Homo sapiens: one gene and its partners. The protein of the gene in region 1 interacts with the protein of each later gene in a pairwise test. Each region holds a gene or a part of one and is shown in the gene's direction. Other genes may lie near its edges.

The links.
Region 2: the proteins of LHX4 (region 1) and DHRS1 interact in binary tests that used the Homo sapiens proteins (3 or more experiments, as listed by UniProt).
Region 3: the proteins of LHX4 (region 1) and TSTD2 interact in binary tests that used the Homo sapiens proteins (3 or more experiments, as listed by UniProt).
Region 4: the proteins of LHX4 (region 1) and MRS2 interact in binary tests that used the Homo sapiens proteins (3 or more experiments, as listed by UniProt).
Region 5: the proteins of LHX4 (region 1) and SNRPA interact in binary tests that used the Homo sapiens proteins (3 or more experiments, as listed by UniProt).
Region 6: the proteins of LHX4 (region 1) and QRICH1 interact in binary tests that used the Homo sapiens proteins (3 or more experiments, as listed by UniProt).
Region 7: the proteins of LHX4 (region 1) and DCAF10 interact in binary tests that used the Homo sapiens proteins (3 or more experiments, as listed by UniProt).

What each region holds. Positions count from the first base shown.
Region 1 is NC_000001.11:180,232,835-180,237,353, forward strand, and holds part of LHX4 (LIM/homeobox protein Lhx4), read left to right. Parts: intron 1-4,519. UniProt on the Homo sapiens protein: May play a critical role in the development of respiratory control mechanisms and in the normal growth and maturation of the lung. Binds preferentially to methylated DNA.
Region 2 is NC_000014.9:24,289,777-24,294,137, reverse strand, and holds the end of DHRS1 (dehydrogenase/reductase SDR family member 1), read left to right. Parts: intron 1-1,353; coding exon 1,354-1,486; intron 1,487-1,537; exon of another isoform or gene 1,538-1,807; coding exon 1,808-1,954; exon of another isoform or gene 1,955-2,099; intron 2,100-2,512; coding exon 2,513-2,582; intron 2,583-2,918; coding exon 2,919-2,999; intron 3,000-3,142; coding exon 3,143-3,279; 3' UTR 3,280-3,540; downstream 3,541-4,361. UniProt on the Homo sapiens protein: NADPH-dependent oxidoreductase which catalyzes the reduction of steroids (estrone, androstene-3,17-dione and cortisone) as well as prostaglandin E1, isatin and xenobiotics in vitro. May have a role in steroid and/or xenobiotic metabolism.
Region 3 is NC_000009.12:97,608,960-97,613,478, reverse strand, and holds part of TSTD2 (thiosulfate sulfurtransferase/rhodanese-like domain-containing protein 2), read left to right. Parts: intron 1-1,779; coding exon 1,780-1,905; intron 1,906-3,027; coding exon 3,028-3,133; intron 3,134-4,519.
Region 4 is NC_000006.12:24,415,742-24,420,260, forward strand, and holds part of MRS2 (magnesium transporter MRS2 homolog, mitochondrial isoform b precursor), read left to right. Parts: intron 1-655; coding exon 656-772; intron 773-2,342; coding exon 2,343-2,495; intron 2,496-2,719; coding exon 2,720-2,837; intron 2,838-4,519. UniProt on the Homo sapiens protein: Magnesium transporter that mediates the influx of magnesium into the mitochondrial matrix and regulates magnesium metabolism. Also permeable to calcium, sodium and potassium ions.
Region 5 is NC_000019.10:40,760,184-40,763,545, forward strand, and holds part of SNRPA (U1 small nuclear ribonucleoprotein A), read left to right. Parts: intron 1-2,717; coding exon 2,718-2,891; intron 2,892-3,362. UniProt on the Homo sapiens protein: Component of the spliceosomal U1 snRNP, which is essential for recognition of the pre-mRNA 5' splice-site and the subsequent assembly of the spliceosome. U1 snRNP is the first snRNP to interact with pre-mRNA.
Region 6 is NC_000003.12:49,087,162-49,091,680, reverse strand, and holds part of QRICH1 (transcriptional regulator QRICH1), read left to right. Parts: intron 1-4,519. UniProt on the Homo sapiens protein: Transcriptional regulator that acts as a mediator of the integrated stress response (ISR) through transcriptional control of protein homeostasis under conditions of ER stress.
Region 7 is NC_000009.12:37,806,879-37,811,397, forward strand, and holds part of DCAF10 (DDB1- and CUL4-associated factor 10), read left to right. Parts: intron 1-4,519. UniProt on the Homo sapiens protein: May function as a substrate receptor for CUL4-DDB1 E3 ubiquitin-protein ligase complex.

The sequences.
Region 1 (4,519 bases):
GAAGCTCGAGGGGTTGTGGGGCACACCCTTGGGCCTTCCGGGACAGTAGGCTCTTAAACCCTAGAGGAGGGGAGACAAAAGAAACGCTCTCCCACAGGGGTCCCTCCAGTCGCCAACTAGAAGGGTTTCCCTCTCAACACAGACATGTTTGCCTCTTCATCACATGGAGTCACCACGAATGGAGCACTTGGGGACGCAGGTCTAGGTGTCCCCAAGCTCGGTGCCTCTAGTGCCCTCCCCTCTAGGGGCATTTTAGAAGAAGTGATTTAAATCCAGCTTATTTCGGCGGCAGCTGGACTATTCCTTTGCTTATTTGGGGATGGGTGAGGGGCATACCCTTTAGGAAAACGTTTCCAAATGATGTAATAATTTCTCTCTCATCTCTGGTCTTGCTCCAGACTTGGCCTCTTCCTCGCCACTCTGTCCCGGCCTCCCGCCCCCGCAGGCTCCCGTGCGGACTTAGCAGTTCGCGCCGTAGCCCTCCTGGTTTTTTACCGCGCCTTGGTCGCGCGGCCCCCGGTGCGGGCCTCGTCGCTCCGACAGCCCTACAGCTGTCCCTACGGCCCGCACCGACAGCTCGTCCCCGCCACCTCCCTCCGGGCTGTAGGGACGTCGAGATCCGAATCCTCACAGCGCCTGACCCGGGGCCGTGTTGGGTACGGGTACGGCGAGAGCCTTCCGAGCCGCCTCCAAAACTCTCCCCGCGGACCTCAGCAGTCCCTCCACGCGTCGGGGCCCTGCTGGCCGGCCATGCCCTCTGAGGAGACGCGGAAAAGAGCGAGGCATATAGGAAGGTGGGGCGTTTTATCCGCCTCGGTTTTGACCCATCTGCCATGTAGTCTCCCCAGGCACCGAGGGAAAGGACGACGGAAGCCCGCCGCCCGGATCGCTGGCGGGAGAGAGGGCAGCCCGCACGGGAGAAGGAGGAGCCCCGCGGGGTCTCCGCTGGGGGTGGTAATTGGAATGCAGGCCTGGGGGTCTCTGTCCCCCTCCTTGTCTCCTAAAATGCTTCCGGCAAGCTCTGGCGAACCCCGAAGCTGTAGGAAAAAGGTATTTTATTTTGTGTTTGGTAGGGTCGGGGTAAAGGTTTTCCCTGGGACTTCCTCTCCTGGGGCTCCTCCGGGGTGCGTGGGGTAATGTCCCAGCGCAGGTCGAGTTGCAGATCCGAGTCCCCGGGGTTGTTGACTGTCCTTCTTGCAGGACATTTCTTAAGGGGGTGAGATGGATTCACTGTCCAAGACAGGAGTTCACTCAAACGCTGGTGCTGTTCGCTCTTCTTTCCATTCCTGCCTTGTCTCCTAGTGCGAGAAACAGACACACACAACACACACAAATTATATATATATATATATATATATATATATATATATATATATATATATATATAATAGATTGAGATTCTATCATATTCCGAACATTCCGATATAGCAGCTGTAGGCACCATAGACCTCCCTCCCTGCGTCGCGAGAATATATTCTCAGGCAGGAGACAATTTTTACAGATGAGGTCAGCTGTCCCCGCCGGCCGATTCGGGCCTGATGGGTTGGGGGTTCCGATGTCCTAACTGCTAGGATCCCGTTCCAGCCCCTGGCCAGAGCTGTGTACCACAAAGAAGGGAGTTTGGAGAAACCCGGGTAAGCGCGGCAGCGCCCCGCTTGGGACAGCGGATGGCTGAGGACTCCCAAGGGGCGAGAGGGCTCCGGCCTCCTCCTTTCCAGGGCCTTGTTATCTGAGAGGGCCGTTAGCACGGAGGGAAGCTTGGAAAGCCGCTGTCCCAGTGCGCTCCGCATGCGGAATTAACTGTTAAAGCCGGACACGGAGCACGCAGGTGCAGCAGGTGAGGGGCAAAGGTCTGCATTGAGCAGTCCGCAGTGTCCCGGGAAGTCGTAAAGTCGGGACTGAGAAGAAGCAGGACCTAACTCAAGTTTATTTCCTCTCTTGGCCGAGGTCCGGGCTCGTGGAAAACCAGAGCTAGGCGGGGCTACGCAGGGCTGAGCAGGAGTGGCGTCCTAGGGTCTGGGAGCGCGACCCACATGACCTCGCTACGACCGGGGCAGGGCTCCTCCGCCCCGCGGGCAGATGCCGGCCTGGGTGGCCCGGGGAACAGACGATGAATTCTTTAAATGAGCGTTTGCTGCGCACCCATGGGCGGCTCACGATCCTGGGCACTCGCCCGGGAATCCCGGGCGTGCTCTGGGTTTTGGGGGACTCGCCGGTGGAGGTAGATGTGGACAGGGCGGCCGGCCCTTCGCGGGTAGCCGGCTTTGCGCTTACTGCGTCCCGCAGCGGTGGGTAAAGGTCGTAGCCCAGAAGGGGACAAGGGAGGGACCGCCTCTCTCTCCCCGGTGCGCTGCAATAGAGGTTCCTGCGCCTTGGCCCTTGCAGTCCATCCGCCCAGAGGTTCGCGCCCGTTTTCGGAGCTTATTATCTCAGGTAGCCCAGAGGTCCGACTGAGCTGGAATTAGCCAGGCCTGGGACCCCTTTGCTGCCCTTTAGAGTGGTGGCAGGGACTTTTCCAGCAAGGATAGGCGCGGCAGGCGCGAGTGCGGACGGCGCGCCCATTAGGAGGAGGCCGGGTGAAAACCTCTCTTCCTCTCCAGACCCATTTCGTTCCAAGCATTTGGAATGACAAAATTAAACCCCAACCCTGGCGGCTCGAGTCTAATGTGACTGTTTAACCCTGGGAAAGCGATGCTCCCATTTTCGAAGGGGCTCCTCCTCTTCGGAGCGGGGAGGCCGCCGGCGGGTGTGCCCGGCCCGCGCGTTCTGCGGGTGTTCGAGCCTCGGCTCCCCACTCGGTTCCGCAGCTTAGTGGACCTTGACGAGCGCTGGAAACGTGTCAGGCTCCAGAGAGACAGAGTCTCTACCTAGGCGGCTGAGGATGTCAATTAAAATCGACCAGGGAAGGGAGTTGGCGGCACTGTGCGCCGCCGGGGAAGGCGAGGTGGCGCGGGCCACCGGGTGCACTCACCGCACGAGAGGCCGCGGCTGGACTGGGACCGAGCGCATCCCTGTGTCTCAGGGGGTTTGCTTTGTGCAGGATGGGACCTTATTATTTTTAGACAGTGGGGCAAACGTGTCTTTTAAAGAGATCCGAAGGGTGAAACTAATGAAAAAGGAAATGAATTACTAGAAAAGCCGTGAAGGGATAAAACCGGGAGCAGCAGGAAGTTGAAGGAAGGACGACCGAAGCTAGGTGTATCTGCACCTGCCTCTTGACACGCCAAAAACAAAGGGGGGTTAAGGCAAGAATGTAGACTAAATGCTGTGAGGATTAGGGTAACGCGAGCCCTCAAGACGTCTCGGAGACCGCCTACAGGGCTGCAAATACCAGGGTCCATTTTTAAAAATCGAGTGCTCCTAGAGGTGGGGTGGGGGTGGGAGAGCCGGGAAACCAGCAAAGCAATTTCTTTCCATTGAGTAGACAAAAACTTGGGCCACAGGGGCATCTTGTATTTTGAACAGTGACCCGATGACCCCGCTGGCCAGGTGTAGACAGCCTCAAGTCCTAAATATTTGCATTGTCCTAACTTCCCAGTTGCCTCGGATTTTAATGCCCTTTCACTCTGCGTTACAGTCAATTAGTGATTACTTAGCATCCACATTAGTAGACTGAAGCCAGAGACCCCAGTGCTGGGAGGAGAGGAGGAGCCGGGGGAAGGAGGATGGGGCTTGCAGTCCTGCAGGGATGGAAAATTAGTTAACAGGAATTAACTGTTCTTTCTATTACCTTGTTATGAAATCTGCTTTGAGCTTCTTGTTTTGGACGGGAATGGTGGGTATTTAGTGGATTTCTCTGGCTGGGAAACTTGTGTCCTCTTCCTATTGAAGAGTTGTGGATGGGGGGCGGGTAGGTGGAATCGGATAAAGGGACCTTGTGCCTTTTCTTTCAATTAAGGAAATTTTTCAGGAATAGAGCTGAGGAGCTTTGGGACGCATAGGGACTTGGAACCAGTTTAGCTGAAGAGAGGACAAAAGGAGTAATATTACCCACTTTGAGAAACCCACGGTTGGAGACAGACTGAAGCAGCAGTTTGCTGTGGCAGCACCAAATACATGGCTGCATAGACGGCTGAATTTGGAGAGGGCTGGCTGGGGTGCCGTTGAGGCGATTTTACTTTTGTAACAATGTTTTGCCTTTCTCCCTTCCTGGAATGAGTGTTAACAATGCCCATAACAGAGATGTGGGCAAATAGGGTCCACTGCTTTTAGTAAAATTCCATCGCGGTCTGGTGGCTTGAATTTCTCTTTCTTCCTCCCTCCTTCTCCTTCCCCTGTTCCCCCAATTTCTTCTGTCTATCCCTTCCTTCCTTTGCAAAATCTTTGCAGGGAGAAACATGGGATAGTGCAGGAATTCACGACACAGGGGTTTTACTCGGCGGGGGGGGCGGGGAGGAGGGCGGTCGTGTGTCCAGCAGGCTGCACCGTGGTGGAGCCATCTCTCTTTCTAGGCGCCCTGGGAGGGAAGCACAGGTGCTGGGTATAGGACAGAAGCCGCCCTGGAGCTGGGCTCTTATTG
Region 2 (4,361 bases), on another chromosome or scaffold:
TTTTCTTTCAGTACTTCTGTGCTTTCGTTTTTTATATTTAAATATTTGATCCTTTTAGGCTTAATTTTAAAATAATAAACGAGGCAGAGACCCAATTCCCCTAACTCAAATAACTGGTCGGTTGTCCCAAATGATCCAACTTTCCCCCACTGATTTGACAGGTTCCTTTCGTAATACATTGCGTTCTCACATACACTTGTATCTAATTATTCTCTGTTTTGTTTCATTGACTTATCAGTCTACTGTTAACACCTGTATTGCATTCTTTTAACTATTATGTCTTGTACATTTTAATTTATTTTATTTTATTTTTTAGAGACGGGGTCTTGCTGTGTTGGCCAGGCTGGTCTCAAACTCCTGACCTCAAGCAATTCTCCCATCTCAGCCTCCCAAAATGCTGGGATTACAGGCATAAGCCACCATGCCTGGCCCCTGTGCATTTTAATATGGGTGACAGCAGGGGTAGGGAAAGCAATCCCCCTCACCCACAAGACATTAGTCTTTTTAGTCCTTTTTTCGGAATTTTCCTGGCTGTTCTCTTTCTTTTTATTTATTTATTTATTTTTGAGACAATCTCACTCTGTCAGCCAGGCTAGAGTGCAGTGGCACAATCTCAGCTTACTGCAACCTCCGCCTCCTGGGCTCAAGAGATCCTCCTGCCTCAGGCTCCCGAGTAGCTGGGACTATAGGCACGTACCACCACACCTGGCTAATTTTTGTATTTTTAGTACAGATGGGCTTTCACCACGTTGGCCAGGCTGGTCTCAAACTCCTGAGCTCAAGTGATCTGCCCCCCTCGCCTCCCAAAGTGCTGGGATTGCAGGCGTGAGCCACCGTGCCCAGCTTTTCTGGCTGTTCTCACGTTTATTCTTCTCATTGAGCTTTAGATTATTTTATCAATTCCTCCAAAAGGTCTTATTGAGCTATAATCCAATTTGACTGAATCTATGGATTGATTTACATAGAAATGATGATTTACATGTCAGTTCTTAGCTTTGAAAGATTTTGTCTGTACTTATTGTCATGGTTTTATAGTTTTTCTATGTAGACACTATACATTTCTTAAGTTTTCTCCCCCTGAACAATTTTGTTTGTAATTGTTATTGTGACAGGGCTCTTGCGTTCCATTTCTTCTTCCAAAGATTGCTGTTTCTCATCTGTCAGTGGTTATTTTGACCAGTTTTCCTCTCAGAATATGGCCTCAAGCCCCTAATTCCTCAGGTCGCTAACCCACCCTGTGTAGCCTTCCTAGTGGACAACAACCACCAGAAGGCAGGGGAAGCCGCCAGAGGCTGTGGCACCCAGGCCAGCACTAACACGGTTCATTCCTTCTTCCCTTGCCCCACCTTCTAGAGGCCACTACTTTTGCTCAGTGTATGGGGCACGGCTGATGGTACCAGCTGGCCAGGGGCTCATCGTGGTCATCTCCTCCCCAGGAAGCCTGCAGTATATGTTCAATGTCCCCTATGGTGTGGGCAAAGCTGCGGTGAGGACCCAGTGGCATAGGAGCTGAGGAGGTAAAAGACAGTGATGTTACCTATAGCTCAGGAGGTACAATCCCCAGTGGTCAGAATGGTAAGGCTGGCTCCTCTCAGCTCCTCCTCTGCCTCATCCATGGACAGTTCCTTTGCTTGTGCTCCTCTTGGTTGGCTAGAGTAGGCATCACACTGGGGAGCGTGGGCAGCTGAGACCTTGGGGCTCCTGGGAAGGACAGGGTGGGTGGAGCATTCACAGTAGAAGCAGAGAGGGCAGGGCAGGAAAGTGACATGGCTAGGTGGCTCTTACCCTGCCTTCCGCCTCTCCACAGTGTGACAAGCTGGCTGCTGACTGTGCCCACGAGCTGCGGCGCCATGGGGTCAGCTGTGTGTCTCTGTGGCCGGGGATTGTGCAGACAGAACTGCTGAAGGAGCATATGGCAAAGGAGGAGGTCCTGCAGGATCCTGTGTTGAAGCAGGTTGGCAAGGGGAGGGCGAAGGAAGCAGAGAACAGGGGAGTCGGCCTCTGCATCCTCAATAACAAGATCAGATACTCCCACTCACCAGGTGCTTACTGTGGCAGGTGCAGGGCTGAGCATGGGACACACATTATTTCCTTTAATCCTGTAAGGGAGATACCAGCTCCATTCTACAGATGGCAAAACTGAAACCCAGAGAGGTTTAGAAACTTGTTGAAGGTCACATATGTCCTAAGTGGAAAGGCTGTCTAGCTCCAAAGACCATGCACTTGACCCCCACACCAGCTAGCTTAGAAGGTCCAAACACTATTTGGCACTACCAGATCCTTCCACTTAGCAAAGACAGCAGATCCTGGTGCCAGGGCACAGGGCTCACCTGGATGTGGGGAGGAGTGGCTCTGGCACCTGCCAATACTTTGGGTCCTACAGGCCCTGCTTGAGGTCTTTGGCCTCTTTGGTCTTTGGTCTTTTTCTCCTGGAACAGAAGTTGAAATGGGGAGGAGACCTGGGCAGTGCTCTTGGAAATTAACCCTTCACTTCTCTGCCCCTGTGTTTCAGTTCAAATCAGCCTTCTCATCTGCGGAAACCACAGAATTGAGTGGCAAATGTGTGGTGGCTTTGGCAACAGGTGAAGTTTGGGGGCAGCTGGTAATAAGAAAGGGCATGGAGGATGTGTAGTGCGGTAGCATCCAGTGCCCAGATCTGGCTCGGGAGTTGGTTGAGGAACATGTCATTCTTTTCTCTGCTTTTTGAGGCCCAAGGGGTCAGCATTCCCAGTTTGAGGTCTGAGAGCCTTAGGAGCAGGCTCCTGGGAAGTGTGGAAAAAGTCCAAGGCCCAAGAGAAAGAGCTCTCCAGGGATCCTGAGCTCCAGGGCTCTCAGCAGTGCCCTGTCCAACTGGGCCCAAACCTTGTCACTCTGCATACTCCCCTGCCTGCCATCTCCACCTGTCTGTGTGCCCGCAGATCCCAATATCCTGAGCCTGAGTGGTAAGGTGCTGCCATCCTGTGACCTTGCTCGACGCTATGGCCTTCGGGATGTGGACGGTGAGGACCCTGGCACAGCAGTCAGCCTTGACTGCTGTTCCCTCTGTTCCCTGCCCACTCCTCCCTCGGTCTCTCCAGCCAAGGTGAGGGTATCTGAGGAGTGGGAAATGAGAATCTAATCCTCCTCCTCCTGTTGTTCCCAGGCCGCCCCGTCCAAGACTATTTGTCTTTGAGCTCTGTTCTCTCACACGTGTCCGGCCTGGGCTGGCTGGCCTCCTACCTGCCCTCCTTCCTCCGTGTGCCCAAGTGGATTATTGCCCTCTACACTAGCAAGTTCTAACCCTCCTGGTCTGACACTACGTCTCTGCTTGTCTTCTCATTTGGACTTGGTGGTTCGTCCTGTCTCAGTGAAACAGCAGCCTTTCTTGTTTACCCATACCCTTGATATGAAGAGAAGCCCTCTGCTGTGTGTCCGTGGTGAGTTCTGGGGTGCGCCTAGGTCCCTTCTTTGTGCCTTGGTTTTCCTTGTCCTTCTTTTTACTTTTTGCCTTAGTATTGAAAAATGCTCTTGGAGCTAATAAAAGTCTCATTTCTCTTTCAATGTGTTTTTGACTGCTGATTCTCTGCTCAGCAACATGTTAACAATTTGGGAGAAAGACTCAAAGATGTATAAATGTGAAGCTTCTCAAGGGGTTCTGCCCCAGGACAAGACCCCTTTCCTCCAGAACTGTTCCTGCTCTGCCCTGCAAGACCTGTTTCCCATGCCCCAGCTGAGGAGCAGAGTCGCTCCACAGCTAGAAGTGGGCACATCCAGTCTCACACTGGTTTTCCACCCCCATTCCACCATCTCTTCAGGGATGCCTGCTACCTTCTAGCTGGGCCTGATCTCTGGCTGAGGCCCAGTCCAGCAAAGGCAGATTCCTTGGTGTTCATGATTTCCTGGAACTTGGGGAGAAGGTACTGCCTGAATCCAAGTGAGGGACAGAGGAATAGCTGTGACACCGACAACTCTCATCCTTCCTCTCGGGATGGTTCTACCTGAATTGCTTTCTGCAGAACTAATTGCATGAGCCCTATAGAGCTGCCTTGCCTATGCAAGAGGCTGTCCTAGCCTGAGGCAAGGCAATGGGGTGTGTTCCTAAGAGGAGCCAAGGGCTATTCTGAGGGAACCTTCCACCGGACAGCCTAGATAACCATCCAAAGTGATGGGATGGCTGCCATAAATCAGAGAAACATAAATCATTTTACTTATTCAAAATCTTCAGAGTGAGAGCTGAGGCTTCCCCAGGCTGCCCACAAGATTGGCAGAAGTCTTCCTGTGGCTTTCTGGGGACCGTCCCCAGTTACTGTTCCAGTGGTAAGTGGAGTGGCTCACCAGCTTCTGAGAGCTTCTGATGCACATCTCTTCTAAGTCCTCATTCA
Region 3 (4,519 bases), on another chromosome or scaffold:
GGAGCATTTCAAAGAGAATATGGGACTTGAGATGCCAAAGAGCCCCAGATATGGATGCATATTCATTTATTCAACAAATCGTATTGAGTGCCTACTATGTGGCAGGCACTGTTCTAGGGGATATGCTGGTGAGCAAAACAGACACACACCCATGTGGAACTTGTATTCCAGTGGATGGTTTGCAGTGGTAGGCTGTCCTCCAAACACCATGCAGAGATACATGCTCATGTATACCCTCAGCCCTCAGATGTACTCTGTGCTTTAGGATTTTGGTAGTATCTCCTCAGCAGTTCTTTTCATTTCTGGTGCTCTTTAGTTCCCTTTTTATTCATATAAAGAAATTAAGATTCAGAGAAGTCAATTAACTTTCTCACAGCTACATGCAAGTGAGTGGCAGAGCTTAATCTTGAGCCTAGATCTGCTGACCTCTGTGGAGGACTCTGTTAAGCTACCTGGATTTAGATTAAGCTCAGAATTCACTTCTTTGGCTGTTGGACTATTGTAGCTCCATAGCAAATGGGGCTTTCCAGGAGTTTTATTCACATTCTTTTGTTCAGCATGCATGAAACAGAATACCTCATCTGAACTGAAGGCTATGCCATTTTAGAAAAATACAAGTATCCAGCTGGGCACGGTGGCTTGTGCCTGTAATCCCAGCACTTTGGGAGGCCAAGGCGGGTAGATCACTTGAGGCCAGGAGTTGGAGACCAGCCTGGCCAACATGGCGAAACCCCGTCTCTACTAAAAATACGAACATTAGCTGGGCTTGGTGGCGCATGCCTGTAATCCCAGCTACTCAGGAGGCTGAGGTAGGAGAATCGCTTGAACCCAGGAGGTGGAGGCTGCAGTGAGCCGAGATTGTGCTATTGCACTCCAGCCTGGGCAACAGAGCAAGACTCTGTCTTAAAAAACAAACAGGTATCCATCTCACACCTGTCAGAATGGCTGTTATTAAAAAGTCAAAAAATAACAGATGCTGGTGAGGTTGTAGAGAAAAAGGAATACTTATACACTATAGGTGGGAGTGTAAATTAGCTCAACCGTTGTGGAAGACAATGTGGTAATTCCTCAAAGACCTAAAGACAGAACTATCATTCGACCCAGCAATCCCATTACTGGGTATGTACCCAAAAGAATATAAATTGTTCTGTTATAAAGACACATGTATGCATATGTTCATTGCAGCACTGTTCACAGTAGCAAAGACATGGAATCAACCTAATGCCCATCAGTGATAAACTGGATAAAGAAAATGTGGGAATACTATGCAGCTATAAAAAAGAACAAGATCATGTCTTTTGCAGGGACATGGATGGAGCTGGGAGCCATTATCCTTAGCAAACTAACGCAGGAAGAGAAAACCAAATACTACATATTTTCACTTATAAGTGGGAGCTAAATTATGAGAACGTGGACACATAGAGGGGAACAACAGACACTGGGGCCTTTTGGAGGGTGGAGGGTGGAAGGAGGGAGAGGATCAGGAGCATAACTAAGGGGTACTAAGCTTAATACCTGGGTGGTGAAATAATCTGCACAATAAACCCCCATGACACAGTTTTACCTGCAGAGCAAACCTGCACTTGTATCCCTGGACTTAAAAGTTTAAAATAAAAAAGAAAAACACAGATATCTTTGTCCAGTAACACTTTGGTGTCCTCATCAGCGTCTCTGCTTTTCCTGTTAAACTCATTGACACACATGAGCCTATTGTTCTTCCCTGGAAAGATAACCAAGCTAAGAACAATCTGTTCTCTTTTTCACCGTCTTGTGTCTCAGATTCGAATTGCTGCAGAAGGAATCAATGGGACAGTTGGTGGAAGCAAATTGGCTACCAGACTTTATGTGGAAGTCATGCTTTCCTTCCCATTGTTTAAGGATGACCTGTGTAAAGATGATTTTAAGGTAAGAGAAAATGAAAATTAAATGGATCTAGAGCCATCTGCTTCTGCCTCTGTGCATGTTATTGAAGAGGAGTTCAAAGTAGAGAAATAAGCAGTGCCAAATAAATACCCTTTCCCCTTTATTTTTTGGGGCTTGGGGAGTTTTTTTGTTTTGTTTTTTGACAGGGTCTTGCTCTGTCACCCAGGCTGGAGTGCAGTGGCGTGATCATGGCTCACTGCAGCCTCAACCTCCCTGGGCTCAGGTGATCCTCCCAGGTAGCTAGGACCATAGGCGTGCATCACCATGTCTGGCTAATTTTTTTGTAGAGACGGGGTCTCACTATGTTGCCCAGGCTGGTATGGAACTCTTGGGTTCAAGCAGTCCTCCCACGTCAGCCTCCTATAGTGCTGAGATATGGACGTGAGATACCGCACCTGCCCCCTTTCCCCTTTAAATGTGCTTTTCTCTTTAGGTTACGAGACAGTACAATAGAAGGAGTATGCTCGTCCCCATTCTTTCACTGAGTCACCATATGATTTTGGACCAGCTAGTGCTCTAGACCTCAGTATCCCTTCTTATAAAATAAGAATGTTACAGCTCATGCAATCTGGGACTCCAAATCTTGGACATATTAGCTCACTTGAGAGACCACCAGCCTGGTCAGCAGATCACTGTGTTTTTAGTAAATCTGGAATTGTAAGATTAACACTTCATACCACATGGGGGAATAAAGTTGTTGCTCTCACAGGTGGGCTGCTTTGTTTGAGTGACTTTATACCTTGTCATAATAAGTGATAAGGTGATGGGAAATGCCTTGCTAGCGTTCATGCTGGCAATGATAGGAAAAGAATGAAAACCGGGTATAGTCACATGTTAGAATTGCTCAGCGGTGTTGCAGTTTTATAATTAAATGCTTACACCTAAAGAAACACTTTTTCAGCTTAACATTCCTGCACATGGCAGGTATGCAGTAAGTATTTATCAATGTTGAATTATCTGGAACATTCTGGGCCCTAACTAGAGGTTTTTTAAGACTTCAGCTATTGTTATTACAAAACAGACCATCATTCTTATATTGGCACTTGTCTTATACCTGGAGATGGGACAGCAAGACTGTATTCTGTTTTGTTTCTCATTGGCTAGACCAGCAAAGGAGGAGCTCACTGTTTTCCAGAATTGCGTGTTGGTGTATTTGAAGAAATCGTGCCCATGGGGATCAGCCCCAAAAAGATCTCCTACAAGAAGCCTGGTATGCTTGCTTTTAGAAGATTGTGCTTTAATTCACAGGGACAAAACTTAATAGACAAATAAGAAAGCTAGGCACTGTGATCAGCAGCAGTCATGAGTCCTCTCTAAAGCAGCTGTGGGGTGGCTAACACTTGGCTGCATCCAGTGCTTATACTGTTTCTCTGTGGTGCTGTGGGGTTGAAGACTCACCTCTTCGAGTGACCTATCTTATTCCTCTTGGTGATGGTTTATCAATTAGTTGTTTGCTCTTTCCAAAGACAGCAAGCAGTTTGGGAAGAGTGTAATTATTACTTGTAAACAGTTCATTAGCAGAATAGAGCAAATAGGCCTTTTGCTACAGGAAACAAGTTGCTTTCAACACCACAGCAGTTTTCACTGTGCTCTAGAATGTTCTTTCCCCATCTTCTCCATGGTAAATGGTTGAAAGACATTTGTTTGGCAGGTTTTTGGGGGTTTTATTGTAGTTTTTACTATGAAAAATTTTAAACATTAAAAAAGTAGAGAAAATAATATAGTGAAGTTCTATGTACCTATCATGCAGCTTTAGCAGTTAACTGATTAATGGCCAGCTCTCACCTATACCCCATCCCTTCTCCCATCTTGGATTATTTTGAAAGCAACCCCAATGTCAGGCCATTTCATTTGTAAATATTTTTAGTAGGTATGTCTAAAAGATAAAAATTTGTTTTAAAAGATGCAAAACGATATCACATCTTAAAACATTTTAACTGATTCCTTAATAAATTATCAAATATCTAGTTGGTTTAGTCACTCAATTCCCGGTTGTCTCATACTTTTTAAGCTTCATTTCTATTAGGATTTAAATAAGGTTCATTCACTGTGATTCATCAGTATGTCTCTTTAAGTGTCTTTCAACCTATAGATTTGTTTCCATCTTTTTTTCCCCCCTTGCAGTTTATTTTTGAAGGAACTGGATCATTTGACCTTTAGAGTTTCCCATAATCTGGACAATAATAATTGTATTCCCAAGATATATTTCTCTGTCCTCTTTATTTCCTATAAGTTGATCATTAGATTTAGAGTAGTGCTAATAGAAGTATAATGTGAGCTACACAATTTTACATTTTCTAGTAGCCATGTCTTTAAAAGTAAAAAATAGATGAGATTAATTTAAATAATATGGTTTTCTTAATGCAGTATATCAAAAATATTATTTCAACATGTAATCAATATAAAAAATTATTAGTTTACTTTTTTTCATGCTAAGTCCTTGAGATTCAGTATGTATGTCACCCCTATTATAGCACAAGTGCTTGTCAGCCACATGTGGCTAGTAGCTACTGTATTAACAACCAGGACTAGAGACTTGATCAGATTCCAATTTGATTTCTTTTTCTCCCGCCACCAAGACTACATAAGCACTGTT
Region 4 (4,519 bases), on another chromosome or scaffold:
TTAAATTCACAAGCGATTTATGTTTCTGAGATAAGTAATGTATGATGAAATTTATATCACTGATAATTTTACCAATTAATTTAGATCTGGTTTGGGTTTTTTGTGGGTGTTTTTGAGACAGGGTTTCACTCCGTTGCCCAGGCTGGAGTGCAGTGGTGCAGTCTCAGCTCACTGCAGCCTTGGTTTGGGTTTTTTGTGGGTGTTTTTGAGACGGGGTTTCACTCCGTTGCCCAGGCTGGAGTGCAGTGGTGCAGTCTCAGCTCACTGCAGCCTTAACCTTCAGCAATCCTCCCACCTCCACCACCCAAGTAGCTGGGACTGCAGGCACATGCCACCATGCCCAGCTAATTTTCTAAATTTTTTTGTAGAGACAAGATCTCACTGTTGTCCAGGAGGGTCTCAAACTCCTGAGCTCAAGCAATCCTCCTGCCTTGGCCTCCTAAAGTGCTAGGATTACAGGCGTGACACCATGCCTGGCCAAATTGATTCTTAATTTGCCTGGTAAATACTCAACTTTTTTTTTTTTTTTAAATAAGTCATTGTTTAGCATGAATGTATAAGATAATATATTTGATAAGATACTCTAAAAACACTATTATGAAATGTTCTTATAAGTTTATTCTATTGATCATTTTTGTGTATCTATTTCTTATAGTCTATCAGAGTTAGAAACAGATATTAAAATTTTCAAAGAGTCAATTTTGGAGATCTTGGATGAGGAAGAGTTGCTAGAAGAGCTCTGTGTATCAAAATGGAGTGACCCACAAGTCTTGTAAGTATATAATTATACTTTGTTATTTATTTCCTTAGAGTAAATCTTTTGCCTTTTCCACTTCAAGGTGATTTTTCATACAGAATGTAACATTTTTCTGGACTACAGAATATAGAGATTTTTCATCCCCAGTTTCCCTTTTTTCCTGTGCAGTATCGTATCTAATTCAATGTAATTCTATGAGTATGCATACTGCATACCCAACACTGCTGACATGTGGTGAATATAAACACACAGTTACCTTTATATTCAAGGGACTGACCACCAGATTGGCATATACATCTACCAAAATAACTTACCTAGGAAGCAGAGTGGGAGAGAAATTTACATGGGGGAGGGAAAAGATGGGGTAAATACACGAGTAACACATTAACATGGATTATGTAAGTTCAGTCTAATGAAAATGTTAATCTTATAAACCTTTTATCTTTTATGAATTTAGAAATTGTTTATGCTTCTTGTGCACACTCCAGCTAAATGTTTACTTTTAAATACCCAAATATTTTGTTATTGTCTTTCTAGAGCAGTATCAGAAATTAATACACCTTTGTAATGAGTTTAGTTTCCACAGTCTGTACAGATTTTCTTACAGCACTTTGAAAAATTGGTTATTTATATCCTGATAAGGAAATAATAAGATAAAGGGGGCTATATAACATTTGGTAGATAGCCGATAGGTATGGTAGCAGAAACTGTTTGCTTTGCTTAGGCCAATCTGTCAATCTGTCTCTAATATGCTTTATGATACAGGTACCTCTTCAGAGTACTTCATTCCCCCTTACCCTTCTTGGTAGGGTAGGGGAGCAAAGTTATTACTGATATCATTCAAAAACATTTTCTTTATATGAAATCACATTATGTACACACCTCAAAAGGAAATGGTCTTGACATTTTTAGTTGTGGATTTTGTTTTACCTGATAGTGGTATTGGCTTTGCACTAATTCATCTGCATTCACATATCTGGATTTTCCTGTAACTGGCAGCATGTATCTGCATAAAAATCTCTTGGATTGGGGCCATGTAATACAGTGACACCAACTGGTCTACATAAGGATGGAACCTCTGTCCTCAACTCATCTGTAAAGTGTTTTGGATCAGTTGACATAGGTACTCACAGATTGGCCACAACAATAGAAAAGACAAAGGCAGCCAGGCGCTGTGGCTCATGCCTGTAATCCCAGCACTTTGGGAAGCCGAGGCAGGCAGATCACAAGGTCAGGAGTTCGAGACCAGCCTGTCCAATATGGTGAAACCCCATCTCTACTAAAAATACAAAAATTAGCTGGGCGTGGTGGCGGGCACCTGTAGTCCCAGCTACTGGGGAGGCTGAAGCAGGAGAACAGCTTGAACCTGGGAGGCAGAGGTTGCAGTGAGCCGAGATCGCGCCACTACACTCCAGCCTGGGAGCAGAGTGAAACTCCATCTCAAAAAAAAAAAAAGACAAGACAAGACAAAGGCTAGCTTTTCCACTGGTAGCTGAATGCTATATACTAATTTAGGAAGTTTTTGTCACTAAGTATATGATACACATGTTGGGAGTATGTTAATTATTTTCTCTTTTAATTGAAGTGAAAAGAGCAGTGCTGGGATTGACCATGCAGAAGAGATGGAGTTGCTGTTGGAAAACTACTACCGATTGGCTGACGATCTCTCCAATGCAGCTCGTGAGCTTAGGGTGCTGATTGATGATTCACAAAGTATTATTTTCATTAATCTGGACAGGTAAGAAAGCATTATATAAAACTAAGTTTTTTTAATAAAATAATTATAAGAAAGTTTTTAAGGAAATATTTTGTGAGGAATTACGCCATCATTATCATCTATACTACATTATTATTATTTTTTTTGTTGTGTAGGTTTCATCCATGTGGTCTGTATAGATTTGATGAATGTGCTGTATATAGTTAGTGGGCCCTTCTAATCTGAATAGGTGTTCTCCTCTCCAGCCACCGAAACGTGATGATGAGGTTGAATCTACAGCTGACCATGGGAACCTTCTCTCTTTCGCTCTTTGGACTAATGGGAGTTGCTTTTGGAATGAATTTGGAATCTTCCCTTGAAGAGGTGAGAATGTATTATTATTTCTAAAACTTGGGGGTTTTGGCCGGGCATGGTGGCTCATGTCAGTAATCCTAGCACTTTAGGAGGCTGAGGCAGGTGGATCACCTGAGGTCAGGAGTTTGAGACCAACCTGGCCAACATGGCGAAACCCTGTCTCTACTAAAAATACAAAAATTAGACAGGCACGGTGGCAGGCACCTGTAATCCCAGCTACTTGGGAGGCTGAGGCAGGAGAATCACTTGAACCCGGGAGGCGGAGGTTGCAGTGAGCTGAGATCGCGCCGTTGCACTCCAGCCTGGGAGACAGAGTGAGACTCTGTCTCCAAAAAAAAAGATTGGGTTTTGAAGATCGATATTTTTAATGGATTTAAAAAATAAAGGCTGGGCACCTTGGCTCAACGCCTGTAATCCCAGCACTTTGGGAGGCTGAGGCAGGTAGATCACGAGGTCAGGAGATCGAGGCCATCCTGGCTAACCCGGTGAAACCCTGTCTCTACTAAAAATACAAAAAATTAGCCGGGCGTGGTGGCAGACGCCTGTAGTCCCAGCTACTCCGGAGGCTGAGGCAGGAGAATGGCATGAACCTGGGAGGCGGAGCTTGCAGTGAGCCAGGATCACACCACTGCACTCCAGCCTGGGCGACAGGACAGAGTGAGACTCTGTCTCAAAAAATAAATAAATAAAAAGTCTAACCTGTAAACTACCATGGTGAAATAAAATATATAATGTAACTCACAATTCAGGCAGTACTGTTGGACCATGTTATAACCTAGATAAATACAGCCTAGGTTACTTTGTTTCCCAAAACATATAATTACAGATGGGAAAGGTGTGATAAAACAGTGTCTCTGTGAAGCAGTGTTAATGAAGAGTTTTTATTTTTTAATTCTTACATGTCTGGCAACGTACCAGGCGGTTTGCATACTTTATTTGGCTCAATCATTGCAACTCTGAAAATAGATATATTATCCCTACTTTGTAGATGAGAAGACTGAGGCTCAGAACATTTAACTTGCCCACAGGCATAGAGCTGGAAAAATAACAGAATTAGGACATGACCCCAAAGACTTGCACTTTCTACTGCTCTGTTGCCTTTCTGTATTAAGATAATACTTAACTCCCAGAGTTTTTCATTTCACTGTGGTTTTGTACAGTCATCCCTCAGTATCCAAGAAGAATTGGTTACAGGATCCCCACAGATACCAAAGTCTGTGGGTATTCAAGTCTCTGATATAAAATGACCCAGTACAGTCAACCTTGCATATCTGCAGATACAGAACCCACTGACTGTGTTTTCACAGAATAGCTTATTGTAAGTTTTCTAGAACTGAACCTGGATGTGCATCTGGCACAGTGTGATGCTGGATTCTGTGTCCTCATTAGTCTAACGAGTCTACTCTGTTGCCCACATCACCTCCCATTAGGACCACTATGCCCTTTTAAAAAGTGGTCTTTATAAGATGTAAGTATTATGACACCCTTCTGCATACAACTATTCAATGGCTTTTGATTAGCCTTAGGATAAAAATCCCGTCCTGCCGCACCGACTTGTCCATCTTGTGGGTAGCCACTTGTTACTACCTCTCTCAGTGTCCTTCCCAGACATGCTGCTTCCACTCCTCTCCCCTCAGATCCCCGTTTTGCTTAGTTACTTCCTCCTCATCTTTCAGGTCTCAAAGTAGTTG
Region 5 (3,362 bases), on another chromosome or scaffold:
AGCTAACTTTTGCATTTTTTGTAGAGACGGGGCTTAGCCATATCACCCAGGCTAGTCTCAAACTCACTGTCTCAGCCTCCCAAAGTGCTAGGATTACATGCATGAGCCACCATGGCTGGCCCCCAGTTTTATTTTTATATGCCAGTAACAGACCAGTAGACTTCACATTGAAAAGTAGCACTGAGGGGTAAATCCAACAAAAGGTTTGCAGAACGACTACACTGAAATCACAGAATGTAGCTGGGAGAAATCAGAGACTCAGCAATGGATAGGAAGACTCAGTATTGTCAAGAGGTCAGTTCCATCCAAATTAATTGAAGATTCAACGTGATTGCAATCAAAATCCCACCAGGAATTTCGGTAAACACTGGACACTGATTGGCTCTTTCTAAATGTGTGGAAAGACAAGGCCAAGCCAGGCGAGGAGAATAAAGCACCAGGACCTGCATGACCAGGGGAAGCTCCAGCAACCAGGCCAGGCCCAATGGCTCATGCCTGTAATCCCAGCACTTTGGGAGGCCAAGATAGGAGGATTGCTTTAGGTCAGGAGTTCAAGACCAGCCTCTATAAAATAGCAAGACCTCATCTCTACAAAAAATAAAATAGAAAACTGGGCGTGGTGACTCATTCCTGTAGTCCCAGCTGCTCAGGAGGCTGAGCTGGGAGGATCGCTTGAGAACTGGAGGTCAAGGCTGCAGTGAACAGTGGTTTTGTCACTGCACTCCAGCCTGGGTAACAGAGTGAGACCTTGTCTCTTTTTTGTTTTGTTTTGTTTTCTTTTGTTTTTTTTCGGGAGGGAGTCTCAGTCAATCTGTCTCCCCAGGCTGGAATGCAGTCGTGCAATCTCGGCTCACTGCAACCTCTGCCTCTCAAGTTCAAGTGATCTTCTGCCTCAGCCTCCCAAGTAGCTGGATCACAGGCACATGCCACCACGTCCATGTGCAAAAAAAAAAAAAAAACCTGCAGCAACCAACCAGGATGATATACAGTTGGCAGAAGGGTAGGAAGACAGACCAAGGGGACAGGATGAAGAGTCTAGGTACAGCTACACTTGTATAATTACTTGATGTGTGATCGAGGTACCACTGCACTTCACTGAGGAAAGGACTTTTTTTCCCCTAGTTCATGATGCGGGGCAGTTGGGTATCTGCAAGGGGAAAAAATTAGCCCTACCTCATACTATATGCAAAATATAACTTGAAGTGAATTGCAGATCCAAATGTGACAACTCACAAAATATAGTTTCTTTTCTCTTTTCTTTTCTTTTTCTTTTTCTTTTTTTTTTTTTTTTTTTTTTTTTTGAGACAGAGCCTCGCTCTGTAGTCCAGGCTGGAGTGCAGTGGTGTGATCTCAGCTCTCTGCAACCTGCGCTTCCTGGGTTCAAGCGAGTCTCCTGCCCCTGCCTCCCGAGGATCTGGGACTACAGGCATGTGCCACCACACCCAGCTAATTTTTGTATTTTTAGTAGAGATGGGGTTTCACCATGTTGGCCAGGCTGGTCTCGAACTCCTGACCTCAAGTGATCCGCCCTCCTCACCCTCCCGAAGTGCTGGGATTACAAGCGTGAGCCACTGCACCCGGCCCTCACACAATAAAGTTTCTAGAAGAAAACAGGAAAATGTCTAAATGACCTTGGTGAGGGCATGAAAAGTGGAAACATCCTGTTTTCCAAACAGGATACAAAAAGCACCGAGTACAAAAGAAAAGATGGATGAACCAGGCCCACTCCTTAGGTCTCTGAGCCTCCGTGTCTCTCTGGCTTTCATGAGTCTCATGGCTCTGACTGGGTCATGCTCTATTCGGTGCCACTCACACTTTCTCCAAGTTGGTGATGGTGTCTGGATTACTGTGGGCTCCTGTTAACCTCTCTCCTCTTCCCTGCACCTAGTTTTCTGTCCACTTTGGACTTCAGATTGTGATTCCAGCCCCTGAGTGTGCTGCCTGCCATCTGTTGTCTTCCCTCTTCCCCTTGCTGCCACGCGTTTTGTTCTGCACCTGCCCTGAGTGTCCCTTTCCATCACTGCCCTCCTTTGTTTTTGTTTTTGTTTTTTGAGACAGAGACTTACTCTGTTGCCCAGGCTGGAGTGCAGTGGTGTGATCTCGGCTCACTCCAACCTTCTGTTGCCGGGTTCAAGTGATTCTCCTGCCTCAGCCACTCTAGTAGCCGGGATTACAGGTGCCCACCACCACGCCTGGCTAATATTTGTATTTTTGGTAGGGGCGGGGTTTCACCATGTTGCCCAGGCTGGTCTCAAACTCCTAACCTCAGGCGATCCGCCTGCCTCGGCCTCCCAAAGTGTTAGGATTATAGGCGTGAGCCATCGTGCCCGGCCTACCACACATTTCTTTCTGCACCTGCCCTGACTGTCCCTTTCCATCTCTTCCTCTCCTTTGATTTTGTTTAAGAGACAGGGTCTTGCTCTGCCTCCCAGGCTGGAGTGCTGTGGCACAATCAGAGCTCACTGCATGCAGTCTTGACCTCCTGTGCTCAAGTGATCCTCCTACCTCAGCCTCACAAATAGCATTTAACTCTTTCTGATTTAATGTCCCACTAGACCCTGGGTTTGTTTTGCTCTGTCGGGCCCTCTTTGGGTGCCTTTTGCGCCTCTTTCTGGGTGTTTTTCCTTACATCTCTCACCCGCTAGGTTTCCTTTCATGGCCTCTTCTCTGCCTCCTGGGGCTGCTGTAACCACGCACTCTCCTCCCTCTCTCCACAGGGCATGCCGCCGATGACTCAGGCGCCCCGCATTATGCACCACATGCCGGGCCAGCCGCCCTACATGCCGCCCCCTGGTATGATCCCCCCGCCAGGCCTTGCACCTGGCCAGATCCCACCAGGGGCCATGCCCCCGCAGCAGCTTATGCCAGGACAGATGCCCCCTGCCCAGCCTGTGAGTATCTAGTCCCACCCACCAGGTCTCATATAAATAGTGAGAATACAGGACTAGAAAGGGACCAGTTGGGGGGCTGCTGTAGGTTGGGTGGTCTGGGCAGGCCCCCTGAGGAGGTGGTACTGAATGAGGAAGTAGCAGTGGGGGTGGGCCCTGGGCAGAGGAATTGGCATGCTGGTTGGAGGGTACGGAAGGTTAGGGTAGGCTGGAGTGGTGCCAGCACCTAGATTGATTCCATGAGCTATTGAGCGCCTCCTTACGTGCCAGGCCCCGTTCTGCACTGTAGGGCTGCAGCAGGGACTGAGATAGAAACCTCTGCTGTCCTGTGGCCTATAGTCTGTAGGGGCAAAGAGGTGGGAGGCAGACAGGCAACAGACAACAATATGTGGTATGTTGGGTGGAAGTACCAGAGTGAATTCAAGCAGGGTGAGGGATGGAGGAAGTGGCAGTACTATGGGTCTCCCACTGGAC
Region 6 (4,519 bases), on another chromosome or scaffold:
GTTTGTCAACTAAGATTTACTTATTAGATGTCTTCCTTCGGGTCCTCTCTGATGAATTTTTCCTATAACTCTTCGAGAACCTCTGCAGTTCCACATCCTCTCTCCAGCTTATGTTGCCATTTCAAACTAAAGATCAAATAGTGGTTTAATTTTCTTGTAAATTTGAATTGCTCTAGGAAAGTAACCAAAGTCAGGGGCTCTGGATGTGGCTGCCTTTCTTTAAGGCAGCTTCAGAATCAGGGATGTCTTTCCTTACTTTGGATATGCTTTTTTTTTTGGATATGCTTTCTTTTAGTTTAATTAGTTGTGGTTTATACTTCATGTGCCATATTTCTTTCTTGTCTGCTTTTTAAATGGCCACTCTTGATCTGTAAGGGTCTCTGATTTCTGAATTAGCCTTAGAATTAGGTGTTACATGAATACCTGTTCTTTTCTTTTTATTTTTATTATTATTTTTTGAGACGGAGTCTCGCTCTGTTGCCCGGGCTGGAGTGCTGTGGTGCAATCTTGGCTCACTGCAACCTCTGCCTCCTGGGTTCACGCCATTCTCCTGCCTCAGCCTCCGGAGTAGCTGGGACTGCAGGCTCCCGCCACCATGCCTGTCTCATTTTTTGTATTTTTTAGTAGAAACGGGGTTTTACTCTGTTAGCCAGGATGGTCTCAATCTCCTGACCTCGGGATCCTCCCACCTTGGCCTCCCAAAGTGCTGGGATTACAGGCGTGAGCCACCGCGCCTGGCCTATTACCTGTTCTTTTCTGTTATTCTGTTGTACTGCATTTTGTTCCAGATGTTTTAAGTCCTCTTCAGACTTCACTTAAATGCTTCCTTTGTATTTTTTCCTAGTTATTACATTAGATTGTGATTTCTGTTATTAAATTGATGTGGCTGCATGAAGAAATGGTAGATTAATTTCTTCCTTTGCTGAAAGAGGGAAGGAGTGCTCCTTTGGTCTCACTCTTCAGGCCAGGGCAAAACTGTAGGTAGAAATGGTGGCTGTGTCAGAAGGCTAATATTTTTCTCTTTTTCTCTTTTCTCTTTTTTTTTTTTTTTTGAGATGGAGTTTCACTCTTGTCGCCCAGGCTGGAGTGCAGTAGCACGATTTCGGCTCACTGCAACCTCCACCTTCCGGGTTCAAGCAATTCTCCTGCCTCAGCCTCTGGAGTAGCTGGAATTACAGGTGCCCGCCACCACGCTGGGCTAATTTTTTTTTTTTTTTTTTTTGAGACGTAGTCTCGCTCTGCTGCCCAGGCTGGAGTGCAGTGGCACGATCTCGGCTCACTGCAAGCTCCACCTTCTGGGTTCACGCCATTCTCCTGCCTCAGCCTCCCGAGTAGCTGGGACTGCAGGTGCCTGCCACCATGCCCGGCTAATTTTTTGTAGTTTTAGTAGAGACGGGGTTTCACCGTGTTAGCCAGCATGGTCTTGATCTCCTGACCTCGTGATCCGCCCGCCTCGGCCTCCCACAGTGCTGGGATTACAGGCGTGAGCCACTGTGCCCGGCTGATGTCTGGCTAATTTTTTGTATTTGTAGTAGAGACGGAGTTTCACTATGTTGGTCAGGCTGGTCTTGAACTCCTGACCTCGTGGTCTGCCTACCTTGGCCTCCCAAAGTGCTGAGATTACAGGCGTGAGCCACTGCGCCCGCCCATGTTTTTCTTTGTTTTAAAATTTGTGAAATATTTATCCATCCATGTAAATTTAGGCGATCTCTGTACAATTTAATGACAAATTATAAAGTAAATGCTGGCGAAAGTACTACTTTTTCAAGAAATAAAACGATGCCAGTATCTCTGAACCCTTCGTGGGTCCCTTCCTGATCACAGCTTCTCAAGCCGTACAGACAGCTGTTATTCTGTGATAACATTCTTCTTCTTTTTACATTTACCATCTCCGTAGCCCTTAACCTAGTTTAGATTTGTTTCCTTATGAGTTTTGTATAAATGGAGTCATGCTGTATTATGTTGTCTTAGCATAATGTTTCTGAAATTTGTTCACATTGTGTGCAGCTGTTCATTTCCATTTTTTATGTAGTATTCTGTTGTATGAATACACCATAAGGTATTTATCTATTCCACTATTGATAGATATCTGGGTTGCTTCCAGCTTTTGGCTCTTAACAATGCTGCTGTGAACATTCTTGTATTAAGTACCCTTGTTTAAAAAAAAGTTCCTTCATATATACTGATGGGTAAAATTGCTCAGGTTCGTGGAATGGATATTTTCAGCTTCACTAGATAATGCAAGTGGTTGTGCCAGTTTACAATCCGTCAATATTTGGGAAAAATACAAATTTTAGTTTCCTGATTGAAAATAGAACCATGGCCGGGTGCAGTGGCTCATGCCTGTAATCCCATTACTTTAGGAGGCCAATGCGGGCGGATCACCTAAGGTCAGGAGTTCCAGACCAGCCTGGCCAACATGGTGAAATCCCGTCTCTACTAAAAATACAAAAATTAGCAGGGCATGGTGATGGGCGCCTGTAATCCCAACTACTCGGGAAGATGAGGCAGGAGAATCGCTTGAACCTGTAGGCGGAGGTTGCAGTGAACTGAGAGGGCACCATTGCACTCCAAGCTGGGGGACAGAGCGAGACTCCATTTAAAAAAAAAAAAAGAAAAGAAAAAAAGAAAATAGAACCGTGATGAAAATGCCCCTAAACCAGGGACTCCTCTGGCATGGGGCATATAAATGGCCTAATGGGATAACTTCTATCACAAACCCTGCAGTTGGCTAGTATCCTTAAAAATCGAAATATGGGTGGAACACAGTGCCTCATGCCTGTAATCCCAGCAGTTTGGGAGGCCAAGGTGGGAGGATTGCTTGAGCCCCGGAGTTGGAGACCAGCCTGGGCAAGATGGCAAGACCCCATTTCTACAGAAAAATAAAAATAGCTGGATGTGGTAGCATGGACCTGTAGTCCCAGCTACTCGGGAGGCAGAGGCAGGAGGATTGTTTGAGCCCAGGAGTGTGAGGCTGCAGGGATCTATGAATGCACCACTGCATTTTATCCTGGGTAGTGGAGCAAGACCTTGTCTCATTAAAAAAAAAAAAAAAAAAAAAACAGACAAAAGCCTGGTGCAGTGGCTCAGGCATGTAATCCCAGCACTTTGGGAGGTCGAGGGGGGCCGTGGAAATGAACTCCTCACCTGAGGTCAGGAGTTCGAGAACAGCCTGGCCAATATGGTGAAACCCCGATTCTACTAAAAATACAAAAAAATTAGCTGGGCTGGGTGGCGTGCGCCTGTAGTTCAAGCTACTAGGGAGGCTTGAGGCAGGAGAACCACTTGAACCTGGGAAACGGAGGTTGCATTGAGCCGAGATGATGCCATTGCACTCCATCCTGGGTGAGAAAACGAGACTTCGTCTCAAAAAAATAAAAATACAAAGAAACAAAACCCAGGCAAAAGAATAGAAATACGTCAATTCTGGTCGGGCACGGTGGCTCACGCCTGTAATCCCACCACTTTGGGAGGCCGAGGCGGGCAGATCATGAGGTCAGGAGATCGAGAGCATCCTGGCTAGCACGGTGAAACTTTCTCTCTACTAAAAAATACAAAAAAATTAGCTGGATGTGGTGGCGGGCGCCTGTGGTCCCAGCTACTTGGGAGGCTGAGGCAGGAGACTGGCGTGAACCCGGGAGACAGAGCTTGCAGTGAGCCGAGATTGTGCCACTGCATTCCAGCCTGGGTGACAGAGTGAGACTCTGTCTCAAAAAAAAAAAAATAAATGAAATAAAATGAATATATTCACATGGAAAAAAAATCAATTTCCATTTTAAGGAGTCATGTCTGTCTTATAAACATATGGAGTTATTTCAAAGAAGCATAGAAGACATTGTTCTTTTTTTTTTTTTTTTTTTTTGAGATGAACCTCCGCCTCCTGAGTTCAAGCAATTCTTCTGCCTCAGCCTCCCGAGTAGCTGGGACTACAGGCGCATGGTACCCCGCCTGGCTAATTTTTGTATTTTTAGTAGAGATGGGGTTTCACCATGTTGGCCAGGCTGGTCTTGAACTCCTGACCTCGTGATATGCCCGACTCGGCCTTCCAGCGTGCTAGGATTACAGGCATGAGCCACTGCACCTGGCCTATTTTTTTATTTTTATTTTTTTTAAATTTATTTTTCTTATTATTTTTTGAGATGGAGTCTTGCTCTGTTGCCCAGGCTGGAGTGCAGTGGTGCGATCGTGGCTCACTGCAACCTTCGCCTCCCGGGTTCAAGTAATTCTCCTGCCTCAGCTTCCCTAGTAGCTGGGACTACAGGCACCACACCTGGCTAATTTTTGTATTTTTAGTAGAGACAGGGTTTCACCATATTAGCTAGGCTGGTCTCAAACTCCTTGTGATCTGCCTGCCTCAGCCTCCCAAACTGCTGGGATTATAGGCGTGAGCCACTGTGCCTGGCCTATTTTATTTTATTTTTTTGAGACAGAGTTTTGCTCTTGTTGCCCGGGCTGGAGTGCAGTGGCGCGATCTCGGCTCACTGCAACCTCCGGCTGCTGGGTGCAAGTGATTCTCCTG
Region 7 (4,519 bases), on another chromosome or scaffold:
TTAGTTGGGGGAATTAAGAAGCAGAAAGTTTATTAAATGAAGGTTCTGTACCTTGGTGTATGCTGTTAACTGCTGTGTTACGTTACCTCTCACCTGGACTGAGGGATTAGGTTTAATATAATTAAGTATATCAATAAATTATTTTTGTGACTTAGTTATTAATATATTTAAACAAATATTGACTATATGAAACTAACAGCAAGCATTTGAAGGGCTAAAAACATTTTAAAATATACTTACTGTTACTTCAGCAAAAGCCAAAAAGAGGATTCAGCTCCCATGAACAATTCTGTTGATGTTAAGAGTGATTTCTTTTTTTTAGGCCAGGTATGGCAGCTCATGCCTATAATCCTAGCACTTTGGGAGGCTGAAGGTGGAGGATTGCTTGAGCTCGAGTTCAAGACCAGCTGGGGCAACATAGGGAGACCTTGTCTCTACAAAAAATTTTAAAAAGTGTGATTTTTTTTAACGTATCATGACTACAAGTTATTTAATGACTATAAATTTAATGTGGACATTCTTAGAAGGGCTTTATCTAGTTTCCTATGTCAATTCATGGTTCAGACAAGGGCATCTGTGTCAAATAAAAGATTATGGCTACAATTTCCAAAAATTAATAAATGATTGAAAATTACTAGAATGATTTAATGAACAATTTGAGCTACAATGGTTATCACCTGGTGAGCATTTTTATAATCTATATAGGTTAATTTATTTAGAAAATGTTTTTAAATTTTATTTATGTTAATTTATATTACCACTGAATTTTCTTTTCTTTTCTTTTTTTTTTTTTTTTTTTTTGAGACAGAGTTTCACTCTTGTTGTCCAGGCTGGACTGCAATGGCGCGATCTTGCCTGAATGCAACCTCCAGCTCCCAGGTTCAAGCAATTCTCCTGCCTCAGCCTCCCAAGTAGCCGGGATTACAGGCATGCACCACCACGCTCGGCTAATTTTGTATTTTTAGTAGAGATGAGGTTTCACCATGTTAGTCAGGCTGGTCTTGAACTCCTGACCTCAGGTGATCCACCCACCTCAGCCTCCCAAAGAGCTGGGATTATAAGTGTGAACCACTGTGCCTGGCCTGAATTTTTAACCTCTTTGAATATCACACTTAACTGTATGTAACAGCCGCTTCATCCTTATATTTTTCAAACACACAAGGAACAGTTATAAAATTTTCACATATGAGACCACAAGTTTCAAAAGATTGGTATCATACCGAATACAGTTTCTCACCACAATGTGATCACTAGAAGTAAATAAAAAGATAACTAGCTGGCATGGTGGTTCATACCTGTGATCCCAACACTTTGGGAGGCTGAGGCAGGTGGATCACTTGAGCCTGGGAGTTCCAGACCATCCTTACAAAAAATACAAAAATTAGCCAGTTGTGGGGCTCATGCCTATAGTCCTAGCTACTCAGGAGGCTGAGGTGGGAGGATCACTTGAACCCCGGAAGCAGAGGTTGCAGTGAGCCAAAATCGCGCCACTGCACTCCAGCCTGGGCGACAGCCTGGGCGACAGAATGAGACCCTGTCTCAAGAAAAATATATATATTATATTATGTAAAAGTATATTATATATAATATAAAATATATATTTATATAATATATAAATATATAAAACATATATTTATATAATATATTATATAAATATATAATATATGTAATATATAAAATATATAATACATAATATATAATATAAAATATATTTATATAATATAATATAAAAATATAATATATTTATATAATATAATATAAAAATATATAATATAAAATATAAATATATTATATAATATAAAATATAAATATATATTTATATATTTATATTTATATATAAAATTTATATATAAAAATATATAAAAATACATACATAAAATATATATTTATATAATATATATTATATATTTTATATTTTTGGAAGTCAAGAGACAAGTATAATTAAAAAGATAACCAGAGACCTGGCACAGTGGGTCACACTTGTAATCCCAGCACTTTGGAAAACTGAGGTGGGAGGATCTGGCAGGAGTTCAAGACCAGCCTGGGCAAGGAAGAAAGACTGTCTACAAAAATTTAAAAATTAGCCTGGTGTGGTGGCATGTGCCTGTGGTCCTAGCTACCCAGGAAGGTGAGGCAGGAGGACTGCTTGAGCTTCAGAGTTTGAGGTTGCCACTGCATTCTAGCCTGGGTGACAGAATGAGACTCTGTCTCAAAGAAAAAAAAAAAAAAAGATAACTAGAAAAGTCTCATTCATTTTCAAAAAGAATTGATAAATTCATGGGTCAAAGGGGAAATTATAATGGAAATTAGAAATGTTCAGAACTAAATGATAATGAAATCATATGTCTCAAAACTTGTGGGATACAAGTAAAGCTGTACTTAGTAGGAAAATTATAGTCTTTAATAAACTGATAAGGAAAATTAATGAGCTAAGTATTCATCTCATGAAAGAGAATAGCAAAGTTATCTGCAAATAATAGGAAAATCAATCTAAAGAGAGCAGAAGGAAATATAGTAAAAAAAAAAAAAAGGTAGAAATTAGTGAAATTTTAAAAACCATCAGAAATACTGAATAGGGACAAAGTTTTGTCTTTGAAAACACTTATAAAAATGAAAAACATCCATGGTACTAAGAAAATGCACAGATAATATTCAGAATAAAAAGAGGGACATAGGTCGGCACAGTGGCTCACACCTGTAATCCTAGCACTTTGGGAGGCCGAGGCGGGTGGATCACCTGAGGTCAGGAGTTCGAGACCAGCCTGGCTAACAGGCGAAGCCCTGACTCTACTCAAAATAAAAAAATTAGCCAGGCATGGTGGTGGGCGCCTATAATCCCGGCTACTCCGGAGGCTGAGGCAGGAGAATCGCTTGAACCCGAGGGGCGGAGGTTGCAGTGAGCCAAGACTGTGCCACTTCACTCCAGCCTGGGCAAAAGAGCGAAACTCTGTCTCAAATTAAAAAAATAAAAGGGTTAGGGGGAGCGGGGCGGCCGTGCGCGGTGGCTCACGCCTGTAATCCCAGCATTTTGGGAGGCCAAGGCGGCTGGATCACCTGAGGTCAGGAGTTTGAGACCAGCCTGGCTAACATGGTGAAACCCCATCTCTACTAAAAATACAAAAAAGTAGCTGGGCATGGTGGCAAACGCCTGTAATCCCAGCCACTCAGGAGGCTGAGACAGGAGAATCACTTGAACCTGGGAGGCGGAGGTTGCAGTGAGCTGAGATTGCGCCACTGCACTCCAGCCTGGGCAACGAGAGCGAAACTCCATCTTAAAAAAAAAAAAAAGTTGGGGGGACAATTTTATATGCAAGAGGTAGATTGTTTGGACCAAACTTCCAACTGAGAATAATCAGAAAAGCTAGAGAAAATATTAAATATTTAATGTAAGATATAGAAAGCTTATGTGTGAGGGGATTAGAGCATTATCAGGGAAATGAAGAAATTGCAGGGTCAAGTTCTAAAAAATAGGAAAGCCAGTGATGTGAGCCCAGCATTTGAGCTCGCTTCTCTGAGAGACATCTGTCAATCTCAAAAGCAGCAGCAGCAATGAGGCTGAATGGTATTTCTTTCTTTCTTTCTTTCTTTTTTTTTTTGAGACAGAGTTTCATTCACTGTTGTTGCCCAGGCTGGAGCGCAATGGCGCAATCTTGGCTCATTGCAACCTCTGCCTCCCGGGTTCAAGCGATTCTCCTGCCTCAGTCTCTGGATTAGCTAGGATTATAGGCGCCTGCCACCACGCCCGGCTAATTTTTGTATTTTTAGTAGAAACGGGCTTTCTCCATGTTGGTCAGGCTGGTCTCGACCTCCTGACCTCAGGTGATCTGTCTGCCTCGGCCTCCCAAAGTGCTGGGATTACAGGCTTGAGCCACTGCGCCTGGCCTCTGAATGGTATTTCTAATGGACTCATGGGTGGGATAGATGAGATTACAAGAATTGCAATTTAGGATCCGCAATTTAGGTTTGGGATTGAAACTCCCCTCCCCTCACCCAGTATACCCTAGGACTAAAGGTGAATCCAGAATCGACAGTACTCATGGGGACTAAAGGCCAGCTTCAAATAATCTCATTCCCTACGTAGATTAAGAAGACCTCAGATTGCCGGCACCTCTACTCTAGCTTACTTGCCATAATTAAAGATGAATCTTCTATGGAAGAAGAAAATATGCAGCTGAGTGCCGTGGCTTACACCTTTAATCCAAGTTCTTTGGGAGGCTGAGGAGGGAAGATTAATTGAGGCCAGGAGTTGGAGACCAGTCTGAGCAACATAGTGAGAGATCCCATATCTGCAAAAAATCTAAAAATTAGCTGGGCAAGGTGGTGTGCGCCTGCCATACTAGCTACTCTGGAGGCTGAGGTGGGAGGATTGTTTAAGCCCAGGCGTTTGAGGTTACAGTGAGCTATAATCACATCACTACACTTCAGCCTGGGTGACCAAGCAAGACCCTGTCTCTAAAGAAATTTTTTTAAAAATATAATATATCATCCAGTGCTTTAAATTATCCCTATAATTTTTGTA